2 separate regions of the Homo sapiens genome follow, and region 2 is linked to region 1. Evidence: fine-mapped expression QTL. Tissue or cell type: aorta. Region 1 holds a variant in brackets; the other region holds the start of a gene. All regions are shown on one strand. Distances are from middle to middle.

The links. PIP is the estimated chance that this variant, and not a neighbour inherited with it, causes the effect.
Region 2: it holds the start of DPP3-DT, and the variant in region 1 is fine-mapped to the expression of DPP3-DT in aorta (GTEx, PIP 0.98).

The regions. Positions count from the first base shown.
Region 1 is chr11:66,050,111-66,052,862 of GRCh38, forward strand. It overlaps SF3B2 (splicing factor 3b subunit 2), which reads left to right and starts at 2,254. Exons shown (of 22, transcript NM_006842.3): 1 at 2,254-2,407; 2 at 2,563-2,609. The coding sequence starts at 2,275. RefSeq lists enhancers at 1,252-1,803, 1,622-1,671, 2,292-2,461 and a silencer at 1,872-2,081. The variant G/A (reference allele first, on the strand shown) is at 1,433.
Region 2 is chr11:66,478,767-66,481,370 of GRCh38, forward strand. DPP3-DT (DPP3 divergent transcript) reads right to left here and starts at 1,483. Exons shown (of 4, transcript NR_120586.1): 1 at 1,273-1,483. DPP3 (dipeptidyl peptidase 3) reads left to right here and starts at 1,668. Exons shown (of 18, transcript NM_130443.4): 1 at 1,668-1,699. RefSeq lists enhancers at 494-1,061, 1,638-1,807 and a silencer at 1,448-1,497.

The sequences.
Region 1 (2,752 bases):
GGGCTGGATACGCCCTTCTAGGCCCACATAGGAAATAGTGTGAGGGTCCTTGTTATGGTTGAGGAGGAGGAAATAGGGACTCTCAGAGTCAGAAGGACTGCTGGTGGCCCCAGTTTGGCCTCTTGGGCATGTCACCTTCTCTGCCCATCAATCTTCCGCTGTGTACAATATCGTGGGGGAGGAGGATCTTGAGACCTTGCCTCCTTCCCAGGGCTGTTATAAAATGAGACTCCAGGCCGGGTGCAGTGGCTCACGCCTGTAATCCCAGCACTTTGGGAGGCTGAGGCGGGCGGATCACGAGGTCAGGAGATCGAGACCATCCTGGCTAACGCGGTGAAACCCCGTCTCTACTAAAAAAAATACAAATAAATTAGCTGGGCGTGGTGGCGGGCGCCTGTAGTCGCAGCTACTCGGGAGGCTGAGGCAGGAGAATGGCGTGAACCCAGGAGGCGGAGCTTGCAGTGAGCGCAGATAGAGCCACTGCACTCCAGCCTGGGCAACTGAGACTCTGTCTCAAAAAAAAAAAAAAATAAATAAATAAATAAAAAATAAATAAATAAAATGAGACTCCATCAGCCTTTAGTTTATCCTGCCTCAGAGACCCCGCCCCCTTCCCTAGCACCTACACATGCCTTGGGGCCCTCAGCCTCAGATGACCTGCCCTGGGCTCTCCAGTTACAGGGAGCAGAAGAGCCTTCCTTTGGGCTAGAAAGGTTCTGCCTGAGTGGGCTGACAAGCTGGAGGGAAGGGCGCTGTTTTTCTGTCTTCGTTACTGTCCTTTCCGGGTTTGGCTTCTCCTCTGGGAGTGTGGCTGCAGGAGCCTCCCATAGTGATATTGATGGAAAGGGGAAAGGTCAAGGTTTGGGTAGGAGGAAGAGGACTTCCCACCCAGTGCTAGGATGTGAGCCAACCTTTCTCAACCCAGTCCTTTTCCCTGTCTCTCCCAAACCTCACCTTCCCCCGACCTGGTGCCCCATTCTTTTTTTTTCCCTGTTCCCAGCTTCTTCTCCACTGGGGGCAGTTGGCAAAATGGAGCTGGAGAAAAGATCTGAAGGGGATGTGTAGGGGGAAAATGAGACCATTTCACTTGAGTCTCCCCACTCCCTTTCTCAACACACATAAAAAACACACACAGGCTAGCTGTTGGTGAGAGGGCAGAGCTAGTGGCAGAGGTGGGGAGAGAAACTGAATTGATGGTGTGGGACAGGGAGAGGTGGATGCTAGGCAGGCAAGAATCCCTGCCAGTCTCTGCCTCTGTCTCCAAAGGCCAAGGGGAGTTGGGGTGGGGAGTGGGAGGCAAGGTGGGGCCCCCAGTGCAGGTGCGGCTGAGGGAAAAGGGCCTGAGTTTATTTTTGAGACTAAAAAAGACACAAATGCTTTCACCAGAAACATTGTTCCTTTTTTTCCAGTAATCATTTATTGGGCGCCTCTT[G/A]AACGCCAGGCGATGCGAGACTGAAAATGATCAAGTCCCTGCTCACATTTTTGGGATAGAGGTAGGAAGAAAGGGCAAGAAAGACTTAACAAACGGTGGAGATTCGAACGTATTATGGGAGCTCTAAGAAAGGAAAGGAAAGCGGGAGGAGGCTTAGTGGAGAAGACGACATTTGAGCCGGCCTGGAAGGTGGAAAAGGGGGCTTTAGAGTCGCCCTTCCCCCAGGTCGGCAGCTGGAGCTCAGCCCGGGCAGGCCTGCTGCTCTCCCGGCTTGGATCCCCTTTCAGCCCATTCATCCGGGCCTGGGCCGGGGGTGGGCGGGCAGACAATCAGACACTGTTTTATCCCAGGCATCGGCTCCAGCCTCCCGCTTGGCGCCCGCAACGCGGGGCCGCCGGGGAAATGAGTCTCTCGGGACTCCCTGGGAGCGTAAGCGTTCGAGGATCTGACCGGAGGGCCGGGCCGGAAAGCTTGAGAGCCTTCGCTCCCGCAGGTGAGGCGCAGAAAACACTCCCTCGGGGAAGTGCCAGCCCTCCTCGCAGCCCCGCCCTCCGGCCCGCCGCCGGCCTTCGGGGCCGTAGCGGCGCGCAGGGCCCGCAGAGACCGAGACCTGCGCACTACAACTCCCAGGAGGCCTCGCGACCAGACCGCCGAGGGGCCACTAGAGAAAGGTGCGTCTGCGGCGAATCCCGTCGCCCAGCGCACGGCAGCGGGTGTGCCTGAGTGCGCGTCGCCTCCCAACCAGAGAGGACGTGGCATACGGCGCCACCGGAAGTTCCGGCAAGTGGGCCCTGAGGCTGGCCCCAGCTTCCGGGTTGGTCGCGCGCCTTCCTGCGGCTAAGATGGCGACGGAGCATCCCGAGCCTCCCAAAGCAGAATTGCAGCTGCCGCCGCCGCCACCTCCAGGCCACTATGGCGCCTGGGCTGCCCAGGAGCTTCAGGCCAAGTTGGCAGAGATCGGAGCTCCGATCCAGGGTGAGGAACACAGGAAGTCGAGGGGCCTTTACGGGCCTGCGGAGAAGCGGAGCCTGGTTACCCGGGAGACTCGGGTGCGAGGGGCGGAGGCAGGCCGCTGGGGCCTGACCTGGCCGGGCTGGCCTGCCCCATTGATCGTGTACTTTGCCCTGCAGGTAATCGCGAGGAGCTGGTGGAGCGGCTGCAGAGCTACACCCGCCAGGTAGGTGTTGGCGGCGGGACGTCAGGATAGGCCGAGCTTCTCCAGGAGACCTTATATACCCCATCACGGCTCGGTCTTCATTCTTTCTTTATCTCGGCACAGCAAGGCGGAGGCTTGCCCTTTTTAGCTTGTTCTTGCCTTTG
Region 2 (2,604 bases), 430 kb after region 1:
TCCCATGGGGAAGAGCCAAGGCTGGGGAGTTATGACTCCAGTGATAGACTGCTCCATGTGAGTGACTGTGTGTGTGTATCTCTATGTTGGGGCCAGGGATATCTGAACTGTGTGGTGTTATAGGAGTCGGCGAACCTCTTAGCCTCAGTTTCCCTATCTGTACAATGGGTAAAGTGATCATACCTCAGGATTTTTGCAAGAATTAAATGAGGTCCTCCATGCCAAACTGCTAGCAAGGGACCTCAGTATATGCTCATCTTATCTGTGATCATAAAAATGTGATCACGTAGCTGGTTGGGGGGTCCTGAGAGCACTGGGGTCTTTTCCTTGCCTGAGCTGCCCCCTGCTGGCAGTGGGCAGCACTACCTCCCTTACCTGTGCACATTTCAACTTCACCTGTCAGCCAACTTTATACCCATTTTAAAGACAATGAAAACGGAGGCACAGGAAAGAAGAGGGGTGACTTTCCTAAGGACACCGACCAACTTGTTGAACTCCCCCATATAACAAGTAATCATCAAAGCTAACAGCTTGTAACACTGTTGTGTCAAGCAGGGCCTTGGGCACCTTTGTGGATGAGAAACTGGTGTCTATGGTAAGCAGAGGCTGTCTGGCCTAGACACGGGCGTAGCAAGGAGACCGTGCGGGATTTCAGTACCCAAACGCCCCTCACCCTGCGCAACTATAGGGAGCGGCACTGCAGTCAACACATCACAACTTACAATATCCCTTGGATTGGATTCAATTATTAGCCTGGTTTTCCGGTTCATAAAGCCAAGACTCCCAGACAACCTCACTCCACCCCCCAGTCTGACCCTGGGCCCTCACCACTACTCCCCATTTGGCCTAGGCCCTTCCGCATGCCCCACCCAGACCGTGGTCCCGTGAGTCCGTCCAGACCTGTAAAAGTGGACCGCGGGCCCGCCTCTGCTCTGGACTCCCTTTCGGGGCCGCAGGAGGCTTTCTCATCCATCAGGCATCTGGCAAGCACCAGGAAACTACCAGCCTGTTTGTGCTAAGGAAACTGAGGCTCGGGAATGTTTAGCGGCTCCTTCCAGGCCCGTGGCGGGTGGGTGGTGGTACAGTGAAGCAGTCGAGGCGTTTCTCCGCGCCCCTACACGGGTGGGACCACCTCAGCCCTGGCCCGATCCCACTCAACCGTAGCCCCGATTCCCGGCACCGAGAGCTTTGCAACTTCCAAGTCTCCACCCCCAGGTCCCGAGTCCCGAGAGGAAGGTGGAGCCACATTACTCCTATTGTGTAGGTTCCCACCTGCAAGAGTGCTGTCGGGTCCTCTGAGGTGAAACCCCAAAGGAAAGCGGGATCGGGACTGGGGGAGGGGGATTCCCAAGTCCCTGACACCCGCGCCGTCTCGGCCTGGGCTTGGTGACCTCGTCAGTCCCGTCTGCCGGGACTAGGCCGCGGCCAGGCCGGGCACAGCGGTACCCGGTCCGGCGCGTGTGCGGCCTGCTGACAAAAGGCCGAGCCCGCAGGGCCAATCCGCGCGCCACCCCGTAGCGCCTGGGGGCGGGAGCGGGCGAGCCGAGAAGCTCGTCTTGGCGCGTCTATTGGCTGGTACTGACGCCCATCCGGACCCCGAGGCCAGGCAGTTGGCCAAGGGGGGCGGGGTTCGCAGAGCCCCAATGAATGGGGGAGCCGGAAGCAGGAAGTGAGTTTGCGAACGGAGCAGCTGCTGCAGGTGAGGCGCGGCGCCTGGGCTTTTGGGGTCAAAGCGTGTCATCCCGGGGGACCAAGGCGAATCCATACTGAGCGCAAAATCGTTCCCTTTCTGCCCACTCTCCAGTACCCCCTCCAAATTCACCCCGCCCTCGAGGCCAAGGAGTGCTCCGGGGAGCAAAGAGTTAACAGCCCTTTCCGAACCTCGAGGCTGTGCTATTGGGGCGGGGCTTCTGGAGGCCGGGGCAGGGCGAGGAGGCTGGACACTCTGTCCCAGCCGGGACGGGGCGTGGCGGGGAGAATGCCCCGGGTTGGGGAATCCCCGGGTTCCAACGGGGCTGTCAGACCTTCAGTAAATTGTTGCCCTTTCCAAGCCTCAGTTTCCCTATCTGTAAAATGGGCTTTCTTCTGGTTGTGAACTTCTGTGGCTTCCCTGGTGGAGCACAGGGAGCGAGCAGGAGAATGGAGGGCCAAGGAAAAGGCATTTAGAGGGATGAGAATGGGACAGTTTCAAGCAAAATCATTTATTGCTGTGGATACTTTCCGTCCAGGGCGACTTCATCTGATTAGCGCACCCACCTGGTAATATTGGGGTTATTCTCTCTTTTATAGAGGAGGAAACGGAGGTACAGAAAAGTGAAGCAATGGACTTGACTTTTAGGAGTCTGGGGCCGAGTCCTGGCTAAAGGCTGAGCCTTCCAGCTGGCGGCCTGGCACTTTATCCTTGTGAGCACAGTGGAAAGTGTAAAGAATTCTGAACAAAGGCCAGGCGCGGTGGCTCACGCCTGTAATCCCAGCACTTTGGGAGGCCAAGGCAAGCAGATCGCTTGAGGCCAGGAGTTCGAGACCAGCCTGGACAAAATAGCGAGACCCCGTCTCTATCAAAAATACAAAAAATTAGCTGGGCATGGTGATGCACGCCTGTAG